4 linked regions of the Homo sapiens genome follow. The protein of the gene in region 4 purifies or fractionates together with the protein of the main gene of each other region. This does not show direct contact. Each region holds a gene or a part of one and is shown on either strand. Other genes may lie near its edges.

Region 1 (4,081 bases), on a different chromosome or scaffold from region 4:
CTAAACATCCCACCTCTGCTAGGCTCCCAGCTCCAGCCTCTGCCCCTCCTTTGGGCATTAGAGGGAGGTACCCTCTGCTTTCTGCATCTCTCCAGCCTGGAGCTGGCACTGAGGTGGGCCTGCACTGCCCTCTAATGGTCATGGAGGGAAACGCCTTCAGGAACTTCAATGAGACCAATTAAACTAGTGATTGCAACTCTGATGTCCAGCAGGAGCCAGGTGGGGAGTCCAGCGGACTGAAATAACCCGAGAGGTCGGTGGGGAAATGAAGCTGCTTCTGGCGATGAGGGAATGAGGTCCCAGTTCCAATTTTTTCAAGAGAGGTCAGAAATCTGTATTTTCCTTAATAGGAAATTTCCCCCTTAAAAAAATGAAAACACCTGTTTGCAGTCTCGGGGAAGACCTCTGCCTGCCCCAAGCCTAGGAAGAGAAGGGCTGCAAAGGCAGACCAAGGTTTTGCCTCTCTCACCCACCTGGAAACACAAACTGACTTTGTAGAAGATCCCCAGGGAACATCTGTTCTAGTCATTTTACAGAAGGGATCAAAGAAGCTCAGAAAGGGTAAGATACTTGCCTCGGGCTGCACAGCAAGTTAAGAGGAGGCACTGGGATTCGACCCATCCTTAGACTCTGTCTGGAATAGTTTCCCAAAAAGACCCCGGAGATGGTTTGGAAAGGGCAGAGCCAACACATTCAAACCTTCTCTCAGATTTCTAGTGTGCCTCCCTCTGCTAGCTGGCTTCACTCATGTCTTTCAGCCTTTACACCAACTCTGGGCACAATATCTGGGCACCATCCTCATTTCAAACATGGGGCTGTTGAGGCCCAGAGAGCCTCCAAACCCTGTGCCCTTTTCCCCAGAGTGGGCAAGACACCAGGCTGAGGTCAGACAGGAGAGTCAGAGCTCAGAGCCGTTTCCAGAAACCCCCGGGCCTCTCTGATCCATTGGTGCAGGCAGGATGTGGGTGACCATTTCTGTTTTGCAGACGAGGGAAGATGCAGCAAAGTCATGAAGCAAGTTTCTAACGGGAGGGTGGCAGTGAGAGGACCCACCCGGAGCGTTTTGTCCTGGCCTGGGTGGTTGGAAGGATGGCTCTTCCTTCCTGCAGAGGTGCTGCTTGGCTGGGAAGATGACCCTGAGGCCCAGGAGTAGCCTGGGCCCTCTGACCCCCTCCCTGCCCAGTACCTTGTAGCTGCCCCCAAGGTCTCCATGGCTCTTGCCAGCTGCAGCCTGTTCGGGTGCTCCGTGCTGTTCCGCCATCTCCCCAGGAACACCTCTGGCTTCAAACCAAAAGAAAATGGTTCACTGGATCCACCCGGGAGAAGCCAGGTGTTGATGTGACTGGAGTCCAGGATGAGCTACAGAGCCTTGCTGCCCATGGGGCGTGGCTGTAACTTATGATCGACATTCAGTCATTCAGCAAACATCCATTGAGCACCTGCCATGGGCCACGTGGACTGAGACAGTGGGATCAGGAGCCCCATTGTACAGAGGGGAACTCTGAGGCTCAGCAAAGTGAGGCCACTTCCTCAAGCACACAGTGAGGAAGTGGCCTGGGTCGGGCCTGGCTCCAAAGCCCGTGCCCTTTTCCCCTGATCCAGATGCTCCCCGAAACCCAGGTTTCTCAGAGCTCTCTGCAGATGTCCCACCCCCAGAACCTGGCTAAAGGGTGGGCTTCAGGGAGTTTCCTCTACAGGGGTCTCTCCCACCTCCGTACTCCAGGAACTCTTTTGTTCACTGGTTACTTTATTCAACAAATATTCCATGAGCACCTACACAGTGCCAGGCTCTGGGCTGGGTGACCAGGAGGGACAGGAGACCCCATATGTCGGGAGGTGGACAGACAGACCTCTAGAGAAAAGGCTTGTAAGACCAGGTCGTTGGACACCTGCTCCAGGTCAGTTTCCCTGCGTTCGGTTACTCATTCCTTAAGCATTTATTGAACACGACTGTGTACCAGCCACTTCAAGACCCAGACACCGACAGTTCTTCATTGCTACAGGGACAGTGACACGCAATACAGGCCCCTGCCGCAGTCACATGGAAGGATTCTCATCATTGTTGCACCCATGGACACACACAGGACTGTTCTGTTTGTCAGCACACACACATAGGTGCACACACTCGCAAAAGTTTCTATGGTCACTATCAGTTATATTTCACCCATGGGCTCACAGGACAGCTTCTTTCTCTCTCTCTCTCTCTCTCCTCACACACACACATCCCTGCCCATTTCAGACATCCACAGTGGTAAACAAGGCACCTACATCTACACCCCACATCCAACTGTTACCCACCCACGGCTCCCAGCACGGCCACCCCAGCATGCACAGCTGCACAGCCCACATACTCTGGATGTGGGCCTAACCATGCACAGCCTGCGGGCTGTCGGTTCTGTCTCTCCTAGCCTCAGCAGGAAACAGGGCTTGGTCCAGCTCACAGGGGACTCTCGGGGGACTTGGCAGGTACCATGTGTGCCCACTCCCCTCCCTCAGAGGAGCTGTTTTGGAAGGTCCCCTGCCCTAAGCACATGTCCAGGGGCTTGGACCCTGGCCACTGCAGACAAGGGTCCCTCGTTCCACCCCCAGCTGGGCTGTCAGGGTCCTCTCACTGGGACCTGACCCTTAAGGGAGGCGCTGTTTTTCTTTGCAGGCGGTCAGCCATGCGCGTCCCACAGAAACTACAAAAGGTCCGGGCCTGCCAGGGTGGCTTTTGCCTCCCCACCCCCAACCCATCCCAGAATGAACCTGTTGCTGTAGCCTCGGGAAGAACAGAGGAGCCACGGCCGTCTGCAGACTCGCCTGTCTTCGCAAGGGGCATGCTATTTATGAGCACTTTCTGACAGCCCAGCACATCCCAGCCTGCTGAGGCAGCACCCTGTCCACCCAATTCCATCCAGGCCACTTCACTCCAATAGCGGGTCCACGGAGGCCCCCAGTGCCTGTCTCCTCAGCCACCGTCTCTGATGACTTCCTGGGGACAGATGAACCTCACTGGCTTTGTGGGAAGCCCAGCAGCGCCAGGCAAGGGGCACGGTGTGCAGCTCTCCCGTGTCTCCCCACAACCACCAACTCCCTTTCTTTGGTTTCTTGGGGTCACCATTTCCTATTGAGTCACACGCAACCTTTGGAAAAATTCTAGTTCTTAAAGTGAGGGACCCCAGACACTCTCCAGTTTCCATGTGCCATGTGGCCTAAGTTTTAAGTCAGATCACGCTAACCATACTCTCCAACTTGGGCGCAAATCCACCCAACCGTTTCCATAGGATGCCGTCACAGAACTCACAGACTGACTTTCTTCATGTAGAAGACACGCACGAATAATAGCTACCATTTCTTGAACACCTACTACACGCAAGGCATTGTGCCAGCTTCACAAGCATTGTATGGAATTCTCATCCAGCCATCCTTAGGGGAGGAATTCTGATTCCACTTTATACATGGAGAAACTGAGTTCAGAGAGGTGAACCCATTTACTCAGAATCACACAGCAGAGAGAAGGGGCTGGCCTGCTCCAGGACCTGGGATCTTAGCCTCAATAGAAATAAAAGTGACCATCACAGTCAACTTATTTATGACCAAAGAAAAAAGGTAGATCCAGGTATTTTTATTTTATTTTTTAGAGATAGGTTGTTGCTACATTGCCCAGGCTGGACTCAAACTCCTGGGCTCAAGCAATCCTTTCTCCTCAGTGTCCTGAATAACCGGAACTACAGGCACGTGCCACTGCACCCAGCTTCCAGGAATTTTTTAAGTGTCTAACAAAGTATAATTTTGCCTGTAATCAATATCTAATAAGTGATTATTTTATGAATAAAATTATATTGGAGCAAAGGAGTGAGTTAACAAGGTTTTCTTTTGTTGTTGTTGGTATTTGTTTTTGGCTAAAATCCTCAAGTCAGCATAAAACCCAGTTACAGGCCGGGCGCGGTGGCTCACGCCTGTAATCCCAACACTCTGGGAGGCCGAGGCAGGCGGATCACGAAGTCAGGAGCTCGAGACCATCCTGGCTAACACGGTGAAACCCTGTCTCTACTAAAAACACAAAAAATTAGCCAGGTGTGGTGGCGGGTGCCTGTAG
Region 2 (3,965 bases), on a different chromosome or scaffold from region 4:
AGTCTTGCTCTGTTGCCCAGGCTAGAATGCAGTGGCGCGATCTCGGCTCACTGCAAGCTCCGCCTCCCGGGTTCACGCCATTCTCTTGCCTCAGCCTCCAGAGTAGCTGGGTCTACAGGCGCCCGCCACGATGCCCGGCTAATTTTTTTAATTGTTGGTAGAGACGGGGTTTCACCGTGTTAGCCGGGATGGTCTCAATCTCTTGACCTCGTGATCCGCCTGCCTGCGCCTCCCAAAGTGCTGGGATTACAGGCGTGAGCCACTGCGCCCGGCCTAATCTTTGTATTTTTTTAGAGACAAAGTTTCACCATGCCGCCCAGGCTGGTCTCTAACTGTATTTTAAAAATACAGGCGGCCGGGCGCAGTGGCTCACGCTTGTAATCCCGGAACTTTAGGAGGCTGAGGCGGGCCGATCATGAGGTCAGCAGATCGAGACCATCTGGCTAACACGGTGAAACCCTGTCTCTACTAAAAATACAAAAAAAATTAGCCAGGCGTGGTGGCGGGCGCCTGTAGTCCCAGCCACTTGGGAGGCTGAGGCAGGAGAATGGCGTGAACGTGGGAGGCAGAGCTTGCAGTGAACCGAGATCGCGCCACTGTACTCCAGCCTGGCCGACAGAGCGAGACTCCGTCTTAAAATAAAAAATAAAAAAATAAGAAATACAGGCAGGGCGCGTGGGCTCATGCTTGTAATCCCAGCACTTTGGGAGGCTGAGGCGGACAGGCTGCTTGAGCTCAAGAGTTCCAGACTAGCATCGGCAAAGCAGGGAGACCCCATCTTTACAAAAAAAGTAGCCTGGCATGGTGTTGTGAGCCCATAGTCCCAGCTAAGTAGGGCAGAGGTAGGAGAATCACTTGAGCCCAGGAGTTCCAGGCTGCAGTGAGCCGTGGTCGTGCCACTGGACTCCAGCCTGGGTGAAAGAGCAAGACCCTGTCTCAAAAAGAGAAAGGAAAAAATTTAACATCAAGAACTTCCTTTCATCAAGACACCACTGAGAGAATACGACAACCCACAGAGTAGGAAAAGAGATTTGTAATACACATCTGTAACAATGGACTTCCTCCTAGAATAGAGAGGATAAAAAGTAGCAACACTTCCGCTTGCACCCGGACGGAACTTCCTGTCACGGAAAAGAACATCCTGTCACGGAGAAGAACATCCTGCAGAATTTCCTGTCACGAGGAACATTCCGCAGGAGGAAATGGAGGCTGAAAGGCTGCGACTCCTCGAGGAAGAGGCCAAGCTGAAAAAGGTAGCCAGAATGGGATTTAATGCATCTTCCATGCTCCGAAAAAGCCAGCTAGGTTTCCTCAACGTCACCAGTTACTCCCGTTTAGCCAACGAGCTGCGTGTGAGCTGCATGGAGCGGAAAAAGGTCCAAATTCGGAGCTTGGATCCCTCCTCTTTGGCGAGCGACCGATTTAACTTCATTCTGGCGAGTACCAACAGCGACCAGCTCTTCGTAGTGAACCAGGTCGAAGTCGAAGGCTCCAAGTACGGCATCATCAGCCTGCGAACTCTGAAGATCCCTTCGTTCCACGTGTACGTGCTCAGAAACCTCTACGTCCCCAACCGGAAGGTGAAGTCCCTGTGCTGGGCCTCGCTGAACCAGTTGGACTCTCACGTTCTGCTGTGCTTCGAGGGAATCACAGATGCTCCAAGCTGTGCAGTGCTGCTCCCAGCGTCGCGGTTCTTAAGTGTTCACACAAGAGTTAACCAGCCTGGCATGCTCTGCAGTTTCCAGATCCCAGAGGCCTGGTCCTGTGCGTGGTCCCTCAACACCCGGGCATATCACTGCTTTAGTGCAGGCTTGTCTCAGCAGGTCCTGTTGACCAGCGTGGCGACGGGACACCAGCAGTCATTTGATACCAGCAGTGATGTCTTGGCCCAGCAGTTTGCTAGTACGGCTCCTTTGCTGTTTAATGGCTGTCGCTCCGGGGAGATCTTTGCCATTGATCTGCGTTGTAGAAATCGAGGCAAGGGGTGGAGGGCCACTCGCCTGTTCCATGACTCAGCAGTGACCTCTGTGCAAATCCTCCAAGAAGAGCAATGCCTGATGGCATCAGACATGACTGGAAAGATCAAGCTGTGGGATCTGAGGGCCACTAAATGTGTAAGGCAGTACGAAGGTCACGTGAATGAGTCCGCCTATCTGCCCCTGCATGTGCACGAGGAAGAGGGAATCGTGGTGGCAGTGGGCCAGGACTGCTACACGAGAATCTGGAGCCTCCATGATGCCCACCTGCTCAGAACCATCCCTTCCCCGTACTCTGCCTCCGAGGACGACATTCCCAGCGTGGCCTTCGCTTCTCGGCTCGGGGGCATCCGGGGAGCAGCACCAGGGCTGCTCATGGCTGTCCGGCAGGACCTTTATTGTTTCCCCTTCAGCTAATTCTGCAGGTGGCAGCGCGGCCGAATGTGGATTTGACTTAAGGAAGTTAAGAGTATCTTATTACCGTTTCTGTGAGAGCATTTTAAGAGACGTGTTGTATATAGATCGCATCCATCCGGCTGCCAGGGGTAAGGTGTTAAGAGTTTTATGTGGAGACGTTCTTGTAAAGTTATTTCAGTTAAACTGTGGACTTAACTTGAAAGTCCTTTTCATAAAAGGTACCTGTTTCCTCTTGTTGAATGCCTTAGAACAGTTAACCACCTCCCCAACCCTTTTTTTTTTTAAATAATTAAGACTTTTCTAAGGACTGAAGATTGGCAAAAACTAAAATAAATTAAAGCAGCTTCTTTCACTAGTAGCCCTTTAGAGAAGCATAATGATGGTACTGGTAAGACTGTTTGACTAATCATACAGGGTCCCAGGCATCTGCGCTTGAGGAAGCCAGTGGGAGTGGAGACAAGGGAGAGGTAATTTCTCAGAGTCTCTACAGAAATATTTAAGGCTGGAGTTTGGAATCATTAAATTTGGCCTTCTCAAACTCAATAGCAGATCTCTTAAGGTTCTCCTTTTATTGTTATCATCCATAGGCATTGGAAGGAAAGATGGATCTTTTTAAATACTAGAAGTTTTAAACAGTCCTTGATGTGCTTTTGTTGAGGTACCTTTCAGAATGTAAGGTACAGCAGCTCCGGTTTCTATTATGGTGACTTGAAGTTCAGATTCAAGGAATTGGCTTTGACTTTTTGTAATCTAGGAGCAGCAGTTTGTGAGAGATTTATTAAAAATGTTAAAGAGCCTGTTTTTCTACTAAGCAAGGAAGAAAAAAAACGTGTAATAAGGTTAGTTGCTACTTCTTAATAGCCAAAGCCTGGAAATGATCTGAATTTCGAAAATGCTAAAATTCGTGATATAATCATACAATCGGATACTGCATAATAATAGAAAATAAGGCACACTTGCTATGTGAAACAGTATGGACCAATCTCAACATGTTGACTGAAATTAGGTAGAAATGAGTACAAACTGTATGATTCAATTCTAAAGTTCAAAAGCAGTAAAAACTTGTCTATGGTGATTAAAGGTAGAGTAGTACGTACCTCTGTAGAAAGAAAGGATTTTTTTTTCTTTTTCTTTTTAGGATGTTTGAGAAGTGACATGGGGAAGCTTTAGGAATGCTGAGTTTTCTTTATCTTGACACTTGATACATACGTAATTCATATATCTATATGCTTCACGTTTTTATAGTTTACTGTATATATGTTATTCCTCAAAAAATAAAAATAAGCAATTAGGACACTATTGTAGTTAGGCAAGGGACAATGATGCCTTGGACCTGCATGTGTGAGAAGTAGAAATGATCAGAAATGATTGCATTGGAAGATCATTCGAAGGTAGTATTATTGATAAGGCTTGCTGATGAGAGTAAACTAGAAAGTGAAAGAAAAAAGGATGGCAGCTTTTTTTTTTTTTTTTTTGAGACGGAGTCTCCTTCTGTCGCCCAGGCTGGAGTGCAGTGGCGCGATCTCGGCTCACTGCAAGCTCTGAGGATGGCAGCTTTTTTGTTAACTTTAG
Region 3 (3,500 bases), on a different chromosome or scaffold from region 4:
TCACTACAACCTGTGAAGTGATGTCACCATCATCACCCACAGCTTATAGAGGAGGACACAGAGGCACAGCCAGGGAATTAGCTGTGTCGGCTCACAAAGCTCATCCACAGCCGAGCTGGGATGAGGAAGCCGGACAGCTGGACTCCAGAACCAAAATGACTGACAATGAAGTTCTGCTGCTCAAGGACGAGCTGCAGTGTGGTGTATGGAGCTAGCAGAGTGCTTAGTGACCTTGTAGAAGGTTCCTAATATTTTTAGTGGCTTGATGTTTCCTATTGATGTGTAAACACAAGGTAAAATCCTAAGCCCCCCAACTGACTGAACAAGCCCGCTCTTCATCAAGAGGACCCCAGAGAAGCCTGAAAACTGAATTCCCAGCCGTGATGGGAATGGAGTTCAGACATGCTTTGTTATACCCCCCCTTGCTGTTGGAGTTTAGGCACAGCAGATCGGCATTAACATTGAAATAGAGATATAAGACTGACAAAACAGACTCTTTGTGGCAGTAAGGTAGCAAATTCCTGCCTCTGGTATAGCGTCACATAACAGGTAGCAAACCCTGAAGAAAATAAAAATATTTTACCCTGAAGTATATTTCTTTGACATATTTTGAAATGGCCCTGCAAAACCATCTCTTGTGGGAGATACTTACATCTGTAGAGCATTTCCATTAATGCAATCAAGCCTTCCCTTTCTAGGCCTTTCCAAGATCTAGGAGAGATTAAATGAGAGTCTGGCAAATTTAAGGTCTGAAAAGAGATATTTACCATCTATTTTCTCTAAAGGCTTCTACCTGGAGGCTTCATCTACATAACAAGAACCTTGGCCTCCACAACTGTCCTTTGTCTTAAGCATTTCTTTCTACTGACTTCAAGTCTTTAGGCAAAACTTAACTCTTTCAATCAACTGGCAATAAAAATATCTTTGAATCTACCTAAGACCTGTAAGCACCCCCACCCTCCAAGCCCCTTCAAGATATCCCACCTGTTTAGGCTGAACCAAGGTATACCTTCTGTGTATTGAGTTATGTCTTTGCTTGTAACTCCTGTCTCTCTGAAATGTGTAAAACCAAACAGTAACTGGACCACCTAGGGCGAGCTTTCTCAGGACCTCATGAGACTGTTCCCTGGCCCATGGTCACTTACACTGGCTCAGAATAAACCTCTTTAAGTATTTTACAGAGTTTGTTTTCTTCTGTTAACAAAGAGATGTGATAATTATTTCTCACCTGGCTTCACACTCCCAGTTTCCCAAACCCACTGTAAACCAAAAGTGTCTGAGACAGGTGTCAACAATTTAGAAAGTTTATTTTGCCGACGTTAAGGATGCACACCTGGGAGGCAGGTCTATGCCTTTCCTCAAAGATGATTTTGAGGGCCTTAATATTTAAAGGGGAAGGAGTGGATACTGGGGGAAGAGGAAGAAATTTTTTAAAGGTGTAGGTAGATAAGAGACAAACGATTGCATTCTTTTGGGTCTTTGATCAGCCTTTGGTTGATCAGTCTTTGATCAACCGAATACACAATTTACATGTTTGTTTAGGGTAGAGGAAAAGTCACTTGTGTCTTAGTCTGGCTCACTGAATCTGCATTTTTATAGAAGATAACATAAACACAAGGCACGTGAAGCAATCAGGTATGCATTCGTCTCAGGCGAGCAGAGGGATGACTTTGAGTTTTGTCCTTTGTCCCGCACCTGAGAAGATCAGATGTCAATTTACATTGCCAGGGTGAAATTCAACAGAACTGTTTTAGGGTACAGGTCTGGGGGCCCAACACGGAAGTTCTTTGTGGGCCAATTGTGAGGGAGGTATGTAGGTTTTGTCTTTGCAGCTATCTTATCTAGAAATAAAATGGGAGGCAGCTTTGCCTGATGCAGTTCCCAGCTTGACTTTTCCCTTTGGCTTAGTGATTGTGGAGTCCTGAGATGTATTTTCTGCTCATGTTTAACCTTGATGGGCCTCACAGCCACTCCTGAGGTACCAGCAGGACAGTCTGGCTCCATATTTTACCAGCCAGCATGCTAGCTGGAGCTCAGAGGGCTGGTTTCTCAGTTGTGACATGGTACATAGGGACTGGCTTAGTGCAGAGCGCCTTCTGTAAGCAGCACTTTGTCACTGGGACAGGTTGCCAGCTGCTCCTACTTGACTCGAGATCTGAATCCTTCTCACTATTTCCTCTGTCTCCACTTGTAAGTGGTTATTTAGTATTTCTGCGACATGCTCGGCTGTGCCATTTACCTGGTGCCTGGAGCCAAACTGATTAGAAAAATGAGCCCTGAGATGCCCTGTAGTTATGCAAATGAAGGCAGTGTTCTCACTTTCTCCCTGTTAGGTTTATAATAGAGCACATTGCAGGGTAGAAAAATTAAGTGACCTTGCCAGCGAGCATCTCAATGTTCTTTTTTTCCTCTCTCGTTTTTTATGCACTTGTACAGATCTCTTTTCTCCTGATTTCATATATAAGAAAAATCAAGATAGAAAGTCTTGCTTGGGAGTCAGCAAGGTATCTAATGGCAAAATTGGGATTAAAGTTCATAGCCACATTCATTAGTTTACTTTTCAATCCTTGGGCCTCAAGCATTGAAGAAACTCAAATTTATTGCTAATTAAATTCTATTGACCTAGAATAGCACCAAATTAATGATGATAGGGTGGCTGGTCATTTGTTTTGTAATGGTGTCCCTCACTGAGCCTGGAACGGAGCTAGGTGCTACCTAAACCCTTCTGAGGAGATGGGGGTCAAACCTGCCTGAAAGATATTGTCTGCGAACACCCATTGCCTTAGTACAGTCATCTGTCACTTCTCTTTGGAGTGTTCTGTAATTTGACAATAGATCTTTTTGAAAAACTAGGAACCCTATGGTTTAAGATTTGAGCTTTGGCCCCAGGAATTGCATCTTTGGTGTGAAAAGATCCTTTGAAGTCGGGGAATTTGGGGTGTGGCCAGGTGTCTAAGACTATCTGTGAGACGCAGGCTGTGGCGGACACATCTCTGTGGGGTAGCAGGAAGGAAGGGGCTGTTTTTCTGTGGCTGACAGATCTGGTCAAAGGTCAGAGAACAATTTACTCTTTAAGACCCATCAGAGGCAGCTAGAAAGAGGGCTGACAGTAAGGCCTGTGTCAGTTTCCATGGACTGGACAAAGGCCGCCTGGATGGCGTTGCCTCGCACGCCCATGCTGTGCACATGCATTCAATTCTGCGTAAGGGTGAAAAGAGAAAGAAAGCTGCAGCTTCAACAGGGATGGTGATTCCGGCCGGTCTCCCTGCTTGCGCTCTGAGAGAACATGAGGAGGGGGCTGGGAATTGCAACTTCCTCAGTGGGCTTTGGTTCTGAGGGCATCTCACAGCGTGAGCATCTCGCTAGGATGCACTATGGGTTCTCACATTTAGATGCTCACAATACATAGTGTGTTGGGATCCCTGCACACAAATCAACAAATTCATCTCCTGCCCCAAAGAACAGGGTTTGTCCCCGTGATGCGGGAGCCCTGGCTGTGC
Region 4 (4,269 bases):
TACTAGGTACAAAGTGTTGGCAGGCACCAAACGAATATATAGATAAACAAAACAAATACTCCAGGAGAAATAACAGCAGTATATAACTTAAATATATTATTTATGAACTTTGTTGTTCTTTTTTCAAACTATTAGGAAGCAATGTCAATTACAGAGAGAGGAGATAATCAGTTACTGGTCACATGTATGAATGCAGCTGAGAGCATCATCCCAACATAAGATGTAATCCATTATGGCCTATTGCTATTTGTAGTTTTACACTTGTCCATGTATGATCTCTGATTCAAAATGGGACACTTCCATCTTGATAGCCTTACTCTCAGGCCTCAGAGTAGCCAAAAGTGTGCTGTCCATTTACCTGGCTCACAACTGCTCTTACTCAAGTCCAGATCTCTGGTGGGTTCCCAGCTGCATTCAGTTACAGTTCTCACACCCTCAAAAAATACCTCTTTTTGGTCTGATCCTGCCAGAGTAAATGACTGATTTAAAGAAGATAGTATGTTCTCTGTAATATGTCCATGACTCTCACATTTGAAGCAAAGCCTATACTTTGATTTACTGGCTATAACAAAATTTGAGGACATTTACAACTTATCTACCAATACGTATATAATACAGACTTTAAAAACTCACACCCACATGTGTTTTTACAATCAACATGTATTATCCATGTACAAAGAACAATTGTTTTTTAAAAAGTTCAAGTCAATTCACTCGGCTAAATCTGCCTACCCAGATAGTCTGAACAGTCCTGAATCTAAACAAACTTGGTTTCATGTCTTCTAAAGGCAAGGAAACAGAATAATTCTCAAATAGCTAAAACTGTACATACTAAGAATAAAAAAGCTAACTTTTATTGAGCATTAATATGTGCCACAGATTATATTAATTAATAAATCCTCACAACAACCATAATAGATATATTCTTCTTATCCTTTTACAGTTAAGAAAACTAGGACACAAAGTTAAGTAACCTACCCTCAACGACCCATGGTTAGATAGTGGATAAGTGGATTCCAACCCAAATTGTTTAACTCCAAAACCCAACCTATAGTTTATGCTATACTTCCACCTTTGACCTCTGCCTTCTAGGGCAAAGGAGCAAAAAACAAATAAAGAACACACAAAAAATGTAAAAAACAAATGAATAAACAGCCCAGAAGTGAGAGTAATTGAGAAAAAGCAAAAAAAAAAAAAAAAACAAAAAGTAAAATTTGAAATTGCAACACTATGGTGGGGGACGGGGGTGGTGTATGTCTTCAATGAATAAAACGAAATACGTGGGACCTAAATATGCTTTTTTTTTTTTTTTTTTTGAGATGGAGTCTTGCTCTGTCGCCCAGGCCGGAGTGCAGTGGCTCCGGTCACTCCAAGCTCCGCCTCCCGGGTTCACGCCATTCTTCTGCCTCAGCCTCCGGAGTAGCTGGGATTACTGGCGCCCGCCACCACGCCCGGCTAATTTTTCTGTATTTTCTTTTTAGTAGACACGGGGGTTTCACCGTGTTAGCCAGGATGGTCTCGATCTCCTGACCCCGTGATCCGCCCGCCTCAGCCTCCCAAAGTGCTGGGATTACAGGCGTGAGCCACCGCGCCCGGCCCATATGCTCATTTCTTAGCAAGGAAAACTGGGGGTTGCGGGGAAAATGCAAGAGGACAACGAAACCTACAATTTCATAGTGAAAACCTGTTATTCCAAGCAGCACTGACATTGACAAAATCTTGTCTGGAATCACTTCACCATTCAAGGGTAGCAACAACAGATATCCTTTCCTTAACCATCACAGTAACTCTAACTCCACCAACACACAAGAAAAAGAATTCCTAAAACCAGCTCAAGTAGAGCCAAAAAATACTGAGCTTAGAAATCAAAGCATGTGATTCTAGCATAGTAATTAGTTGTGTGTTCTCCAGCGAATCACTTTTCCCTTCTGGGTTTCAATTACCTCATTTGTAGAGGCAAGTGTTTTAACTAAATTAAGGTGTAACTGTCAGCTCTAAGAATTACGTGAAACTTTAAGGAAAACTCCTGTAAAACTTGGAAAGGCTCGGGGATGCATTTAAAACACCGTGAACTATGGGTTCTTTGGCAAGAATGTTCCCTTCTAAGCCGCCACAAGCCCTGGCTAGAACATGACACAGACCGGCTTCCAGGCCCTTGAGGCTCAGAGAGCAAGGTCAAATCCAGCTTTCAATAATTCCATAGGGCTGAGGCATTAACCTCTACGAGTATTATAACCTAAGTCAGAATTCTGGGGGTAAAGGCAGCGGCAGGGGAAGGAGAAATCACTCTTCTAGGTCATCAGAAACCTTAGTCCAGACCCCTCGGGTTGCAGAATCAGGCACAGAGAGGGCGAGCGCCTTGCCCCCACGTTACACAGCAGTTAGCGCCGAGGTCGGGACTAGAACCTCAATCTTTCAGCTCCCCGCTCGGCAAACGGTCCTTCCAAGCGCAGCGAAGCAACAGAGAGGAGGGGCGGGGGCGCGCGGGGACCCGGCACGGAGCGCAGGGGCACCAGGGAGGACAGGGGCGCACCCCGAGTTACCTGTGTCGGCCCCCGAGCCGGCGTGCAACAGTCTGACCTCCGGCCGCTGCCTGTCGCCACCCGGCCTGCGCTGCACCACCTGCCGCAGGAGCAGCCGCATGCGCCGCGAGGCCGGGCCGCCGTGGCCTCCGGGTGCCCCGAGGAGTAGAAGCCGGGATTGCATGGCGCCGGGGGGGCTGTCGGGGACGGCGAGGGGGCTCGGGGATCGAGCGGCGTCCCGTGCAGGCACCGTGAGGCAGCGCGGAGAAGGGGACAGGAAGCGGCACCTAGCCGAGTCCGCCGGAAACTCCTTCCCCCGCGGCGCGGCCGGCTCAGTAGACTCAGCCCGGCCCTACCCGGCCCTGCATGGCCCAGACGGGCGGAAAGAGCCTGCGGAGCTCCAGCCCAAAGAGCCGGCACCGTCCCGGGACTGCCCGCACCGCGGGGGTGCTCCGAGCTGCGGCGCTGGGCTCTGGCAAGCGCCTCGCAGTCCGTGAGACTGTCTGTTCACCTGGATGCACCAGGCCTTCACCCGCCGTTTCCCTGCGATCCCACAGAATCTCAGGAGTTCAGTAAATGCCAAGGGTTTTAGGAGCATTTGTCGGTGTGACTCTTCAGATGCTTGCCCCAAGTCTTCGTTTCTTAGTTAAAGGCCCAGTAAGTATAGGGAGCTTTCCCTGTATTCGGCTTCAGATTTCGGAAATGGAGAAAACATGCACAAGATGATGGGAACTTTCACAACTGTCTTGATTCATTGTAACCACACTAGTGTTTCCAAACCGTACGTGAAAGCTTTACCCTTTGTCCTTTTGGTGGTGGTTGTTTGTTTCTGTGTTTTATTACCGCTTCCTAAATTCTAAGGAAAAAATTCACATCTTAGTGATAGATGGAAATTGCTTAAATATCAGAAAGGATCCAGATCAAGCACTTTTCTAGTCATGCTGTAATACAAAAGTTATATAAAGATGATTTATGTCTTTAGTAAAGGAAAAAGTAGGACACTGGCTAAGGCTGCCTCCCTCTTGTACATTCCAACATCGGAAATGGTCCTACCACAAAGCAAACTAAGCCTAATGTAATTAGACTGCATCCCCAAAATGTCACAGTGAATTGACTAAGGCAAAATATTTGAGACAAGTTATACAAGCAAACATCAAAAAGAAGGCAGAAGACCTCACTTTCAGCTAAAGACCTTGCTAATTCTAGAGCTGCCACTGTCTAAATACATAGCACCTACCCTGCGCCTGACCCTGTGATGAGTGCTGAGAAGAGAGTGTTAGAGTGGAGACTGTAAAAGTCAAACAAGGCTAGGTAAGGAAGGCTTTGGGCATCCAGCGGAAGAACTTGAGGAATGAAGGCTGAACCAGGCTTCTAACCTAGATGAGGAGACAGTGAAAATAAAGGTAATAAGTAGTTACACAATATATTATGACTTCGTTTCATGTGTATCTTCTCATTTAATCCTCATAGCAACCCTAAGACATAAATTTAGGATGTAAGCTTATAAAATGCTTTTCCTACTTTGAGCACATTGTATGTATCAAGATTTTAATGAATTATCCCATTTCACATAAAAATGCTTTGAGGTACTATTATTATCCTCCGTTTTACAGATGAAGAAACTGAGGCTAGAAGAATTGAATACCTTGGTCAAGATATCTCCATTTAATCTCGCTGGAACTCAGTAGACACCTGAAAGAATGGGAGAACAACCTAAGGCAATTTTGCAAAGTGGTTGATATAAGCA

Evidence for each region.
Region 1: the proteins of VWA8 (region 4) and CRYBB3 purify together in Homo sapiens (co-immunoprecipitation; one large-scale study listed by IntAct). This does not show direct contact.
Region 2: the proteins of VWA8 (region 4) and DCAF4L1 purify together in Homo sapiens (co-immunoprecipitation; one large-scale study listed by IntAct). This does not show direct contact.
Region 3: the proteins of VWA8 (region 4) and FAM167A purify together in Homo sapiens (co-immunoprecipitation; one large-scale study listed by IntAct). This does not show direct contact.

Annotation. Positions count from the first base shown.
Region 1 is NC_000022.11:25,198,577-25,202,657, reverse strand, and holds the start of CRYBB3 (beta-crystallin B3), read right to left. Parts: upstream 2,801-4,081; 5' UTR 2,749-2,800; exon of another isoform or gene 1,282-2,748; 5' UTR 1,262-1,281; coding exon 1,187-1,261; intron 1-1,186. UniProt on the Homo sapiens protein: Crystallins are the dominant structural components of the vertebrate eye lens.
Region 2 is NC_000004.12:41,980,591-41,984,555, forward strand, and holds the start of DCAF4L1 (DDB1- and CUL4-associated factor 4-like protein 1), read left to right. Parts: upstream 1-1,165; 5' UTR 1,166-1,202; coding exon 1,203-2,393; 3' UTR 2,394-3,965.
Region 3 is NC_000008.11:11,425,254-11,428,753, forward strand, and holds part of FAM167A (protein FAM167A), read right to left. Parts: intron 1-3,500.
Region 4 is NC_000013.11:41,958,310-41,962,578, forward strand, and holds the start of VWA8 (von Willebrand factor A domain-containing protein 8 isoform a precursor), read right to left. Parts: upstream 2,801-4,269; 5' UTR 2,707-2,800; coding exon 2,544-2,706; intron 1-2,543. UniProt on the Homo sapiens protein: Exhibits ATPase activity in vitro.